Linked DNA regions of Homo sapiens. Each later gene encodes a partner of the first gene's protein in a complex. Each region holds a gene or a part of one and is shown in the gene's direction. Other genes may lie near its edges.

Region 1 (7,021 bases):
GCTCTATGTTAGGTACAGTACAGAGGAATATCACTGACGATCTTACTGAATTCTCACAATCACTCTTTGAAGTAGGTCCTGTCCTTGTCCACATTTTCCAGATGAGGAAACTGAAGCACCATAAATAACATGGCCAAAGCTGTGCAGCTGAGAAATGAAGGAGCCAGGAAAGGAAGTAGGACCTAAGGGTGGAATAGAATCTGGGGTGGGACACACGGTTGCTGATTATATTCATATGCCAGACATTTTAATTGTGTCTGAGACAGTTCAGGATACTAGAAGGAACATGGGACATGAAATCCTGTAGTCTTGATTTATTTGTTCAGCAAATATTTATCAGCACCTCCTGTGTGCCAGACTCTGTTTTAGATACTAGACATACAGTAGGGAACAAAACAGCAAAGCTGCCCTTGTGGGGTTTACATTCTGGTTTGGGAGACAGATAGTAGATCTGTAGTGGGATGTCAGTGGCAGTAATTGCTAAGAAGAAAAATTGCTGGACGTGGTGGCTCAAGCCTAATTGTAACACTTTGGTTTTATTTTATTTTATTTTTTTTGAGACAGAGTCTCACTCTGTCGTCCAGGCCGTCTCTGCTCATTGCAACCTCCGCCTCCCGGGTTCAAGTGATTCTCCTGCCTCAGCCTCCTGAGTGGCTAGGATTAGAGGCGCCCACCACCACATCCAGCTAATTTTTGTATTTTTAGTAGAGAGTGGGTTTCACCATGTTGGCCAGGCTGGTCTCAAACTCCCTGCCCGCCTCTGCCTCCCAAAGTGCTGGGATTACAGGCATGAGCCACCACCCCTGGCCAATTCTAGCACTTTGGAAGGCCAAGGTGAAAGGATCGCTTGAGCCCAGGAGTTTAAGACCAGCCTGGGCAACAAAGTGAGACCCTGTCTCTACCAAAAAAAAAAAAAAAATTAGCTGGTGTGATGACACAGGCCTTGGTCCCAGCTGCTCAGGAGACTGAGGTCGGAGGATTGCTTGAACCAGGGAGATCGAGGCTGCGGTGAGAGCCTGGGCGACAGCAAGACCCTGTCTCCAAAAAAAAAAAAAAAAAAAAAAAAGAACAAAATAAGACAGGTACAGGGAATAGAGCAAGCACCTGGGGCTGCTTTGTTAGATAGGGAGGTTAGAGAAAGCTGCTCTGAGGAAGTGATGTTGAACAAGGATTTGAATGAAATGAACAGGTCGTGGAAGAGCAGTCTGGGCAGAGGGAATAGTTGGTACAAAGGCCAGGAGTGGGAGGATGCTTGATGCGTTCAAAGCACAGCAAAAAGGCCAGTGTGACTGAGGCAGAGAGAATGGCAAAGTGGTGGGAGGTGAGGACTAGACCAGGACTAGATCAAGTGAGGCCTGTGGGCCAAGGTGAAGGCCTTGAAGATGGGAGGGAGGAGGAGGAATTGCAAGGCTTTCAGTAGTAATTATGGGTTCTGGTATAATTTTAAAGGATCCTTCCTCTGGCTGTCATAGGGGTTGGGCCCTGTTGAGGTGCCATTACAAAGCACCCAGGACCAGTGTTAGCATGCAGGGGGGAAGTATGGTTACAGTCAGGACATGTTGAGGGGGGCTGATGGGATTTGCTGGTGGGTAATGTAGAGGGAAGAGTTGAGGGTGACTGAAGTTTGAACCCCCGCTCTGCCAGTTGTGCTCTCTGTGTGCCCCTGGAGCAGTACTTTCCCCTCTTTGGACCCAGATTCCTCATCTGCAAAATGGGGATAATGATGAAGAATCAGCGTGTGCCTGGTTGTGAAGATGCAGTGAAATTGGCTTGCTCATTGTTCTGCGGTAGTCATATGGTGGGGATTGAGCAGACCTGAGGAAATGGGGCATCTGGGGAACCGTGTGGGACCAAGTCAGCAAGTGCTAAAGCCTGGGTTGGGAATACACTGGGCTGTTTGTTTTTTTGGTTACTATCAAGGAAGCAGTTGTGACAAGCCAGGCCCAGTGAGAATGGATCAGTAGACTAGGGTCAGATTGTGTTGGGCCTTGTAGGCCAGAGTAAGGCCTTAGCTTTTATTCTGAATGTGCAGGGAAAACATACTACATGTGGGATTATACCATATACATTCATATTATGGAAGGCTCCATGGGTTGAATGCAGGGTGGATCTTCAAAAGTGGGTCCCCTTTCCACAGGTGCATATAGTGGGAAGGCGGATTTTATTTATTAACTCACCACAGAGCAGGCTCTGTGCCGAGGCCTGCTGGGACACAGAGAGTCCCAGTCTAGGGTGGTAAGTGCTGTCATGGAACCATATGGGTGGACTCTTTGGAAAATCCCAATTCCTATTCTCTCACTTAACACAACAATCAACAACACAGAAGAAGACTTCCGTGACTAAATGTGTGTTGGGGTGGGGAGGGATTCTTCACCACCACTAAGCAAGCATTCAGTTCTGCAGCACACGCCAACTGGATGTCCTCCAATTCAGTTCAGACACGACCTGGAGACAGTGTTGGATCCAACAGGTTGAGGGCTCAGGCCTCAAAACTGCCCCTTGGCCCTCGCCTTCAGTTGCCATTCTGGGTCGTCAGAACTTCTGATCTACCTGCTTCAAGTTGGAGTTCCCATGACCACCCTGCCTTTGGGTTTGATTAATATGCTAGAGCAGCTCTCAGAACTCAGGGAAACATGTAAGTTTATCAGTTCATTATAAAGGATAGTATAAAGAATACAGATGAAGAGAGGCATAGGGTGAGCTATGGGGGAAGGGGTGTGGAGCTTCCATGCCCTTCTTGGGTGCACCACCCTCCAGGAACCTCTGTGTGTTCGGCTATGTTGAAGTTCCCAGGCCCTGTCCTTTTGGGTTTTTATAAAGGCATTGTTAGGTAGGCAGGATTGATTAAACCTGGTGATCACCTTGACCTTCAGCCCCTCTCCGATCCCTGGAGGTTGTGGGGTGGGACTGAAAATCCCAACCCTCTAATCATGCCTCTCTGTTTTCCATGACTATCTTTCCAGTGACCATGGACCCCATCCTGAAGGTATCAGTCAACATTAGCATACAAAAAGCGCCTTGGAGATTCCAAAGATTTGAGGAGTTGTATGCAAGGAAATGGGGATGAAGCCCAAATCTGTATCTCACAGTATCACAACTGTAGCAGGTGCTTGGTGGGGACACACTTGGGAGATAGTCAGTGCACAGGGAATTCTCAGGATATGACATGATCAATGGCCAGTCAAGGTTTCTGAAATGATATTAATAGATTTTCTATCAGGAATGTGACGGAGACCCCAACCTAGAGTTGTTTAAACAAGTAAGAGTTCTCTTTATTTCTCATATAGCAAGTTCAGCAGCTCAAAGCTATCACAGAATTGGGTCAGCTCAAAGATATCACAGAAATGCGGTTTTTTTGACTGGCCTGTTTTGGTTATAAGATTCCAGCAGCATCTGCTGTCCTAGTGGAACTGCACTTTTTAGTGCAGTTTAGCAGAGGCCAGCTTAGGACACAGAGGTTCTTTCCCTCCTCCCTTTTATGAAGGAGGAAAATCTCTCCTGAATCTCCTCAGCAGACTTGCTTGTATATCTCTTTGCCAAGAACTAGGTCATATGCAGAGTTAGTTGAAGTTAAGTTTGGCTGTAAGTAGTAGAAAAACTCTAAATAACAGGGGCTTAAATGAGCTTGAAGTTTCTATCTGACTGATGACCAAAATGTCTGGTGGCAATCCAGGCTGCTGTGGCACTTCATGGTGTCAGGGTCCCAGGCTCTTACCATTATGCGCTGGTTGTATCCTCCATTCTACCCTCCGTGTCCCCCAGGTTACCTCAGGTCCCCAAGTTGGCTGCCGAAGCCCCAACCATTATAGCTCCATTCCAGACAGGAAGGAGGGAAGATAAGTGTGACCCCCATCCCTATAAGTTGCACAAAACATTTCCACTTGGATTTTATTGGCCAGATGTTAGTTTTATAGTCACATTCAGATGCAAAGGCAATTCAGAAATGTCTTTTCCAGGGGTCATGTGTACAGCTGAAAACCAAGGATTATGAACAGCAGTATAGCCCCATGCAGGAGCTCCTAACTTGGGGATCATCTGCAATTCCCAGGCAGGTCCATGAATTTGGATGGCAAAAATAACATCTTTATTTTCATTAACCTTTAACTTACATTTAACTTCCCTTCTGTTATAGATTATAATATCACTATAGTATATCATAGGTAGCGTTAGCAAAACCTGTGACTTACCAGTGGAAATCAGGAGTTGTGTTCACATGTCATTTCTGCTATTATACATATCTTCTAGTGTTGTTTATGTTCACCTCTTTCAAAATTGCGTTCATTATTAGACCTGCTAAGGGGATTCATGGCACCACCCCACCCCTCTACAAGAGAAAAACCAAAAAAAGCCGGGTGCAGTGGCTCATGCCTATAATCCTAGCATTTTGGGAGGTCGAGGTGGGAGGATTGCTTGAGCTCAGGAGTTTGAGGGCAGCTTGGGCAACATAGTGAGGCCTCATCCCTACAAAAAGTTAAAAAACTAGCTGGGCTTGGTGACACCTGCCTGTAGACCCGTCTACTTGGGTAGCTGAGGCGGGAGAATCACTTGAGCCCGGGAGGTCAAGGCTACAGTGAGCTACGATTGTGCCACTGCACTCCAGCCTGGGTAACAGAGTGAGACCCTGCCTCAAAACAACAACAAGCACAACAAAAAAGAAAAAACAGAGCAAATATGAATCCATAGTACTGGTTAAGAACCTGGTGGCTGGGATTCAAATCCTGGCTTTACTACCAGTAAGCTGTATGCAGTTAAGCTCCCTGTGCCTTTGTGTTCTCTGCCTCAAGACGGGGGATTCTGTATTTCCCTCATGGGATTGTGAGGGTCAAATGAATTAAAACATTAAAGCCTGGGGCATAGTAGAGACTAAGGAAATATTTACTGTTATTATTCTGTCATGGTGAAAAAAGGGAAAAGAAACATCAGTGGACCAGCTGCCACGATGTCCTTCTTAATAATCTGAACAAAATCAGGATGCTGTCAGTGAGGCGTGGTTGCCACGGCTGCCATTATTAATCTTCCCCTGGTGCTAGGGTGTCCCTGTAGAATGTCATTTTGTACTCAAGACAACCCTCTGAGGGTAGGTATTCTCATCATCCCCACTTCACAGATGAGAAAATTGAGGCTCAGAAAGGTACAAGGATTGCCCAAGATTCCACAGCTAATATGTAAGCAGTTTAGCCTTGAACCTGGACAGTGCAGCTCTGTAGTACCACCCTAGGCCATCTTTCTCAAGCATTGATGATGCTGTCTGCCTGAAGAAACACTTTTAATGAAACCAAAAGCAGAATCCCAAAGAACAGCAGTGGAAGGAAGGGAGCTCTCTGGATGGGAAAGCAGCCTGATTGTCATGGGCCCACCTCTTGGGCATCCCCAGCTTCAAGTTGGGGTTCCCACGACCCCCTCTTTGGGTTTGATTAATTTGCTGGAGCGGCTCACAGAACTCCAGGAAACACTTAGGTTTACCGGTTTATTATAAAGGATATTCCAAAGGATACAGATGAAGAGGTGCATAGGGTGAGCTATGGAGGAAGGGGCGGGGAGCTTTCGTGCCATCCCTGGGGATGCCACCCTCCAAGAATGTGCATGTTCTGCTATCAGGAAGCTCTCTGAATCCTTTCCTCTTTGGTTTTTATGGAAGCTTCATGATACAAACATTTTTGCCTAAATGACAGTATGATATTGAAATTGAGTCAGGCTGCCTGGCTTCATTGCTTTCCAGTAAGTGACAGCCTCACCTCTGTGCATCAGTGTCCTCACTCGCCTCTGTGCATCAGTGAAGTGGGGACGCTGCTAACAATACATACCTCAGAGCAGTTATGAGGATTCAGTGTGTTAATCATCCATGTCAATCACTTGGATTGCTGCCAAGCACGTAGCAAACAATAAATGTTTGTTGCTATTGTTCTGGCATTTATGATTATGATTATTAATTGTAATTATTCCCTGTACCATCTCATTGTCCTCAGGGCTGTTGCTCACCTAGTATGGCCCTAGCCCATGTGTATATTTCCCCATAGCTCAGGCTGAGAGAAGAACACACAGATCAACTTGGAGAAAACAAAGAGGAAAGAAATAGGCAACTAGGTCAATACTCCCCACAGTATTTTATGTTATTTTATTTTATTTATTTATTTATTTGAGACAGAGTCTCACTCTGTCACCCAGGCTGGAGTGCAGTGGCACCATCTCGGCTCACTGCAAGCTCCACCTCCCAGGTTCACGCCATTCTCCTGCCTCAGCCTCCCGAGTAGCTGGGACTATAGGCGCCCGCCACCACGCCCGGCTAATTTCTTTTTGTATTTATGGTAGAGACGGGGTTTCACCGTGTTAGCCAGGATGGTCTCGATCTCCTAACCTCATGATCCGCCTGCCTCGGCCTCCCAAGGTGCTGGGATTACAGGCATGAGCCACTGCGCCTGGCCTCCCCACAGTATTTTATTATGAAAGTTTTCAGACATGCATAACTTTGGAAGACTAACACAAGGGTCAGCAGACTACAGTCCATGGGTCCAATTCAGCCCACTGTCTGCTTTTGCAAGTAAAGTTATTGGAACACAGCTATGCCTGTTTGCTTCTCTAGTTCTGGTTCTATGGTTGTTTTCAGTGCCACGCAAGCAGAGTTCAGTAGTTAGGTTTGCAAAGCTGAAAATAATTACTGTCTGGCAATGTATAGAATAAGTTTTGCTGACTTCTAGCATAGTGCAGTGAGCACCTCTATACTTACACCCCAGGTCAGTGATTGTTAGTGTTTGCTATATTAGTTTTTTATCTTTCTATAGGTCTGTCTCTATATACGTTTTATTTTTTAGCTGAAAATCAGTTGCAGGTTTTGTAGTACTTTATCCTGAGGTCCGTTTAATGCCAGAATGGTGAGTTTTTGGACTACCTGTATGAAAGATTTACTGTGTGCATTTTTCTGAGGAGAGACCATCACAACACTTCATCAGATGCTCATCGTCTGTGATCGCAGAGATATTCTTCAACTCCTGGACCGGAGAACCCAACTCACGCAAGATCTTAG
Region 2 (7,918 bases), on another chromosome or scaffold:
TGAGCTGAAATCATGCCACTGCACTCCAGCCTGGTGACAGAGCAAGACTCAAAAAAAAAAAAAAAAAAAAAAAAGGAATTTTTGGCACTTTCTTCCTCTCTGGAATTCCCATTAGTTTGGTACTGGACTTGAACTTCTAAGCTTATCTTACTTCCTGAGTTCCTTAATTTTATCTTCCAACTAAACTTTTCTTTTCTCTTTTTGGAGACAGGGTCTCACTCTGTTGCCCAGACTGGAGTGCAGTGGTATGATCGCAGCTCACTGCAGCCTCCACTTCCCCGAGTTCAAGCAATCCTCCCACCTGAGCCTCCCAACTAGCTGGGACCATAGGTACACACTACCACATCCAGCTAATTTTTTTGCATTTTTTGCATACATAGTGCTTTGCCATGTTGCCCAGGCTGGTCTCAAACTCCTGGACACAGGTGATTCTCCCACCTTGACCTTCCAACATGCTGAAATTATAAACTTTTTCTTTTTTTTTTGAGACAAAGTCTTGCTCTGTCGCCCAGGCTGGAGTGCAATGGCATGATCTCAGCTCACTGCAACCTCCACCTCCCAGGTTCAGGCAATTCTTCTGCTTCAGCCTCCCAAGTAGCTGGGACTATAGGCGTGTGCCACCATGCCCAGCTAATTTTTGTATTTTTAGTAGAGACGGGGTTTCACCATGTTGGCCAGGCTGGTCTCAAACTCCTGACCTCAAGTGATCCACCAGCCTGAGCCTCCCAAAGTGCTGGGATTACAGGCGTGAGCCACCGCGCCCAGTCTAAACTTTACTTTTCTTAAAACATGTTATCAATGTCTTTGGTTCTGTGGGTTCACTGAGCCCAGCTGAGTGGCTCCTCCTAAGAGTTGTGGTGACAGAACCTAGGGGTGGTGCTGTCTGAAGGCTCACCTAGGCTGGAATTCCATTTCCATTCATGTGTCTGACATTGGGGTGGCCACACAGCTCAGGGCTGGCTCTGCATCTACCTTTGTGTGTCTTTTCCACATGAGTTTCTGGGTAGATTTCTTAGGCTGACTTCTCCAAAAGTAAGAATCCAAGAGCCTGCGGTAATTTTAATCTATTGTCATTTTATCTCCTGATAGCCTTTTCTTGGGCTGTTTCTTGAAGCATTCTGTGTTTGTTCTAGGAATGTTCTAACGAGGTTCCAGAATGCTCTTCATTTCTCTGTGTTTCTATTTCTTCTCACGTCATCTTTCTAATTTACGTTGGTCTCTATTGTTCATGTTGAAAGTCTTCCCAAATACCCAATATCCTTAGCAGTCTTAAAGAGACTAAGACTGAGGTGTTAGGAAGCTCACAAGGAGTTTGCATTCAAAAGCAGGACTTGTCAAGCGCTGGGCTTTGCTGTAGAGACTGTGTAGGAAGCCCACTCTCAGGCCAGCCTAAATCCCACCTTACAGGGGTGTCTTTTTCTGGAATACCCCCACATTATTTATGCTAGGAAACCCTGTTGCTGTATGATTTGTGTGTGTGAGGGGATGGAGGGATGAGGAGTGGGAAGCTGTTGACTCATGCACATACCTGTCTCCATGGTGTCTCTGCTGTCGACCTCCTCTCCCCCAGCTCCAGCCCCTCACCTTTCCAGGGCTCTGTATCCAATGGAGGGGGCTCAAGTGAAGGCTTCTTCCCCCCATTTCACTGTCACCAAGCTTTACCTCTGGACATTTGTGGCACTCACCTGCTGGGAACCCACTCCTTTCTCTGAACAGTTTCAGGGTTTAGCCTCCCTTCCTGAGCCCCTTTTGACAAGTTATCAGGTCCCTGGTAGGGAAAGAAGAACAAGCTCAAGTGCCCGATCTCTTATCTTAATCAGAAGGGGAACCCAGTTCTAATCCAGATGCTGCTATGCTGTCCTCTTTCTGGGTTTCATTTCCTTGTCTGTCAAACCAGAGGGTGGCTTGGCCAACTCACACCTGACCCAGGTTGACACAAAGTCCAACTCCAGCTTCTCTCCACTCCTACCTGAATTCCCAGCAGCATACAAACAGGACTCAGGAGACCTGGGTTCAATCCTGTCTTTGCCATATTCTGGTTGTGGCCTTGGGCACGTCCCTTTACCTCTTAGTTATCCCTTGCCTGCCTCGGAGGGCTGTTGCAGTCACCAAGTGACTGGACCTGAAGGTAAGCTGCCCAAGGGGCTCAATTGTGAGTGTTCCCTCCTCCCACCCAAGGTCAGCCTTGTCAATAATAAACACAGTGACTCTCTGAGCACCTGCCAAGGGCCAGGCCCGCCACATACGGTGTTATTCTCACAATCTACAAGAAAAGTACTATTAGCGCCATATTCCCAAGGAAGAAAGTGAGTGCCCAGAGAAAAAACTAAAATTTCTTGGAGGTGAAAAATAGAGACCAGGCTCAGTGGCTCACACCTGTACTCTGAAAGCACTTTGGAAGGCTGAGGCGGAAGGATCACTTGAGCTCAGGAGTTTGAGAACAGCCTGGACAGCATGGGGAGACCCCGTCTCCACAAAAATTAGCTGGGTGTGGTGACATGTGCCTGTGGACCCAGCTACATGGGGAGCTGAGGTGGGAGAACTGCTTGAGCCTGGGAGGTCGAGGTTGCAGTAAGCCAAAATTGCCGCACTGCATTCCAGCCTGGGTGGCAGAGTAAGACCTTATCTGGGAAAAAAAAAGAAAGAATCACTGAAAAGAAAATTTTTATATGAAAGTTGAAAGATAAAACCGAAGAATAAGGCCGAGCGTGGTGGCTCATGCCTGTAATCCCAGCACTTTGGGAGGCAGAGGTGGGCAGATCACGAGGTCAGGAGTTTGAGACTAGCCTGACCAACATGACCAACATGATGAAACCCCGTCTCTACTCAAAATACAAAAATTAGCCGGGGGTGGTGGCGCACGCCTATAATCCCAGCTACTCAGGACGCTGAGGCAGGAGAATCGCTTGAACCTGGGAAGCGGAGGTTACAGTGAGCCAAGATCGCACCACTGCACTCCAGCCTGGGAGACAGAGTGAGACTCCGTCTCAAAACAAACACACAAACAAACAAAAACCCCGAAGAATAACAGAAGTATACAACAACAAAAAAGAAATGGAAAACAAGAGAAACGGGATGAAGGGCCTGGAAGGTCAATGCAGGAAAAGACATGGTGATGATCACGTCCGGACGGCAGCTTAGCAAGACAGCAGCCAGGAGCAAAGGGTTAACAATTGGCCAAAAGCAGGCAAAGGCTGAAAAACTCTTCTAGGCACTTTTATTAATTTGTTTTTTGAGGCAGAGCCTTGCTCGGTCTCCCAGGCTGGAGTACTGTGGCATGATCTTGACTCACAGCAACCTCCAACTCCCAGGTTCAAGCGATTCTCCTGACTCAGCCTCCCTAGTAGCTGGGACTACAGGCACGCACTACCATGCCTGGCTAATTTTTGTATTTTTAGTAGAGATGAAGTTTCACCATGTTGGCTAGGCTGGCCCCGAACTCCCAACCTCAAGTGATCTGCCTGCCTCAGCCTCCCAAAGTGCTGGGATTACAGGTGTGAGCCACTGCTCCCAGCCTCTTCTAGGCACTTCGGAAAAGTGCAGCGATTACTGACCACACGAAGGCCAGAGATGCAGCAGGCATCTATTTACATGCATTAAATACATATATTATCTTCATGCATTTACACATTCATTCAACAAACATTACTGAGCGCCTGCCGTGGGCTGGCATGGTCCTGGGCACAGCTCCGCTTGCAGGAAGCCCACTTTCTCCTGGGGAGTCAAAGCACAAACAAAGCCAAGTCAGTACGTAAAGAAGCAGGGGTGATGAGAGATGCGGACCCAGGAGGGGTTCAAGGGGCTGTCCTGGACGCATGACAGGGAAGCATAGCTTCTTAAAGGACTCGGCAGTGCACCATGAGAAGACACGCACCAGGGAGCAGAGAGAAACGCCAGAACCCTCTCGAAGAAGGAGGGATGTGAGGAGGTCAGGATAGTCACCTGTGCTGAGCCATCATGGAGAGTGAGGGCCTGTAAGGGTGGACACAGTATGCAGGAGGGACAAATCTTCCTCACCGGACAGGTGGGGATCCCTGCGGTGCACTAGGGGAATGCACACAGGGGGCACTATGACCTGGCGGCCCACGGGGCACGGGGACGCACCAGGTAGCCTTGGGATCTGCAAGTCCCTCCCGGACCCTGGGGAGTGCCATGACGGCTTCCAGCAGCAGTCACTGTCCTGGGCGCGTCCCGCGCTCTAGCCCAGGTGGGTCCCACAACGGTGTGACCAAGGACGTCCTATGACCACCCCTTGACAGGTAAGGAAACTGAGGCAGGAGAGGCGAAGCAACTCGCCCAAGGAATGGGCTGTGCCGGTAGCTTCTCCAAGGCCTGGTGCGCCCTGGCCTGTGCGCGTGATCCCGGGCGGGGTCTCAGTACGAACAGGGGCTTCGCGATGTGGCCAGCGCGGGCTTATCTCCGTGCCGTGACGACAAGGCTAGAAGCCTGGGCGGCCGCGGTGGATCCTCGTGGCGAGGCGGGGAGGGCGCCGGGCCTCACTGGCCCGCTCGAACCAGGGCTGCGCAGGGCAGAGCCCAAGGGAGAGGGCCGCGCGGCCGCCGTAACGTCGGAGACGACGCCTGGCAGGCGCCAGCAAACGCAGAAGACCCGCGAGGGCGAGGCAGGGAGGGCGCGACGCGACAACGACCACGTGCCCCGCCCGCCCAGGCGCGCGGCCTGCCGGGAGACGCAGTCCAAACCTTTCGGGAGCAGGACTAGGGGTCCCAGAGAGCCTCGCGGCGCGCATGCGAGCCCCGGCCCCCTCTCGCGCAGCCTGCCGGGACTTGTAGTCCAACGCCAGCAGGCTTCCGGGCCCGGAGTGGGCGGTGGGACTCGGGGTCCCAGAGAGCCGTGCGCGGGCCGCGACGCCGAGCACCGCCCTCGCCGTCGCCTCCGGGCTTTCTCCGGTCGCTGCCGCCACCACCGTTGCTTCGCGGGCTGGGAGGCCCGGGGTCCCCGGGCGAACAGAGGCTGCGGGTGGGAGCCTTCGCGGGCGCTGCAGAGCGGGCCGGGGGAGGCCGGGATGGAGCCCCGCGGAGGTGGGCGCGCTGCCGGGCGGGGCGCTTGCGGCGATTGGGGAGGGGGCAGAGGGAGGGGCCCGGGGCGGGGCTCGGTGGCGGGGACACCGGGGCGGGGGCACCGGGAGGAAGCTGCCTTGGAAGAGGTGGGGGCGGCGACGGGAGGGGCGGCGAGCCCCCGGGAGCCTGGGCGTTAGGCCCGGGCGTGGCGGGGCCCCGGCGGCCTGGGGGGTCTCCTGGGCCCCCCCCCACCCATGGAGCCCGCCGCCCCGGAGGTCGGTCTCAGATGACTGAACTGGGCACCGAGCGCCCCTGGTGTCCCTCGCAGTGGACTGACGCCGCAGGGGCGAGCTAGCCGGCTCCGCGCCTCTCCGCGGGATCCAGACGCCTCCTGGGGCTGCTGGCGGAGGGTCTGAGGCGGCGCGGCCATGGCTCACCTCCGGGGATTTGCCAACCAGGTGAGAAGGGTGCAGGTCAGGAAGACTAGCGGCCTCTCACCGAGGGGCTCCAGAGTCTCCTGGGGGTTCAGAGGGGAGCGCCACGCCGGAGCGGGCAGTGGGGTGAGGGAAGGAGCGCGCGTCGTGCGACCAGCGGAGCCGTCCTGAGGTGGGCGCAGGGCGGCCCCGGGGCTCTGCCGTGTGCCTGTGGCGTTTTGCGTGGCAGAAGCTCGCAGGCCTCTAGAAACCGAGCCCCTGGTGGCTCCGCCTGTGCGAGGGCGGTGGAGGTGCGTGAAGAGACACCGGCGCAGGGACGGGGCGCTGCCCCCAGCGCGGGGCGGGAACCTCATGTCAGCATCCGAAGGCAGTGGAAGGTCGGGGGCCACCCTGCGGCCTCGGCCTGGGCCGCGGGTCATTCTGGCCGTGTTGGGCTGGGCAGGGGCTGTAGGGGAGACCCTGGCGGGCGCTGAGGGGCTGAGATTGTGGAGAAGCAGATCTGAGTGGCCGGTGTGCAGGGAAAGCAGAGAACACGTGTGTGCTTTGGCCCAGGGGAGGGTGAAAAGGCTGCTCTGTCAGGACCGTTTAACCCCTGCGACGGGCGGTTGCCCGAACATGAGACTCATCTTTCTTCTTTAAAGAAGTCGTTTCCACTATGGAGCCACCTTTAAGCGTCTGGTGGGACAGCCTCGGAGGGAGCCACTACGGCGAGCCCTTAGCCTGGAATGAGGACCAGCTGCTGGTGCCAAAGGGCTTGCCGGGGAAGGAGGGTGGGGTCAGCCAACCTGGGGCCTGGGGACTTGCATTCTCTACCCCTCCCCACTTTTTTGACTCTGGCCGCTGGGTTTTCTTACATCTTAGCTGTTCGGTTTTATTCTCCTTGATGCCTTGGCTCTACCTAAGGCGTTGGAATCGCCGCTAAAATGTGTGGCCCTCCTTGTTCACTCCTATGTGCTGAATGGAGAGTTGGGCCTGCAGTGGAACAGGAAGGGCGTCTGTTCGCGTAGGGGCAGGAACTGGAGTCAGGGCTGCTTTGGAGGAAACCGGACCAGCCTAGAGACCCGGAACACCATGTGCAGCTGTTGGGCCAGGCAACCTGGACCTGCGTGGTCACAGATGAGACTGGGGCTTGCTGACTGTTGCTGAATTAAGCTAACAGATTTTTGGTTTGCTTTTGGCATTCTGTATCTGGTAACTTACATGACTAAGGTGCTGGGAGAAAAATCTGCCACCAGTTTATTTTACTTTATTTTTATTTTTTTGAGACGGAGTTTCGCTTTTGTTGCCCAGGTTGGAGTGCAATGGTGCAATCTCAGCTCACTGCACCCTCTGCCTCCCAAGTACAAGCGATTCTCCTGTCTTGGCCTCCCAAGTAGCTTGGATTACAGGCATGCGCCACCATGCCCAGCTAATTTTGTATTTTTAGTAGAGACGGAGTTTCACCATGTTGGTCAGGCTGGTCTCAAACTCCTGACCTCAGGTGATCTGCTTGCCCTGGCCTCCCAACGTGCTGGGATTACAGGCATGAGCCACCGCGCTCGGCCACCAGTTTATTTTTAAGAACTGCAGAAATAACTCCTTTGGGTCACAGGATGAGAAATTGGAGCTCCGAGGTGCCCTGTAACTGTGTGCTATTGGTTCTTGGTGCGATCGCACACAGGGAAGGGAGTGCGGGCACATTGGAGAAGGGATTCCAAAGGTAGGAAGCTCCTTTTGTCCTTTTAGGGATCCCTTTGTCCCAGCCTGGATGATGAGAGACTTGACTTCATATAGTGGCAGAAAACCTGAGGGGCTGTGGTTTTCTCCTGAGATGGTTGCCATGGTGTCCTGTGGACCTGTGGGGCAGCCCCTTTGTGGGAGAGTGGGGCGCGTTCCCCCCATAGCCTGTGCTCCTGCCTTAGACTTCTCCCCTCTACCTGGCCAGTTCCTGCCTGGCCCTGGAGGGCCCGAATGGCTGTGGGGTGCCAGAGCACTGTATCACCACTCAGCTATGTGTGCTGGGTCATTCCCCTTGTTTTGTGGGGCAACACTGACAGCAGACACATTGGCAAGTGGAGGCCCCAGACCTGGCAGCCCCAGGGCTAATGTGGAGAACAGGTGTCCACCGCTCGAGTCAGCTGAGTGGCCCGAGTGATCATCCAGGCCACAGCTGCTGCTACATCCAAAAGAGGATTCGCAGCCTCCAGGCCAGGGGCCCACTTACCCTTTCTTCTCCAGGTGGGGGTGGGGATGGCTTGCCTTGGCTTGGCCTGCGATGTCATTGTAGGGCCAGGATCACAGCCAAGAGGGTTCCTGTCACACAGTTTCTGCTTGGGCTGATGAGCCCTGGCTCTGGCTTAGGGGTCCGCTGTGCTCCCCTGCTGTGAAGCAGTAGAGGTCTGAGTGCCCACCCAGGGGTTTCCCTACCGGGGCTGCTGTGATGGAGCAGATTCAGCTCCAGGCCCTGTGTGGAGAGCAGCATGGCCT

Evidence for each region. Proteins that work in one complex are often made in the same cells at the same time.
Region 2: PPP2R1A (region 1) and STK25 share a complex: the UniProt entries of both Homo sapiens proteins name them as parts of the core of STRIPAK complex.

The regions. Positions count from the first base shown.
Region 1 is NC_000019.10:52,193,047-52,200,067, forward strand, and holds part of PPP2R1A (serine/threonine-protein phosphatase 2A 65 kDa regulatory subunit A alpha isoform), read left to right. Parts: intron 1-7,021. UniProt on the Homo sapiens protein: The PR65 subunit of protein phosphatase 2A serves as a scaffolding molecule to coordinate the assembly of the catalytic subunit and a variable regulatory B subunit.
Region 2 is NC_000002.12:241,505,564-241,513,481, reverse strand, and holds the start of STK25 (serine/threonine-protein kinase 25), read left to right. Parts: upstream 1-4,897; 5' UTR 4,898-5,039; intron 5,040-5,136; exon of another isoform or gene 5,137-5,346; 5' UTR 5,347-5,446; coding exon 5,447-5,476; intron 5,477-7,918. UniProt on the Homo sapiens protein: Oxidant stress-activated serine/threonine kinase that may play a role in the response to environmental stress.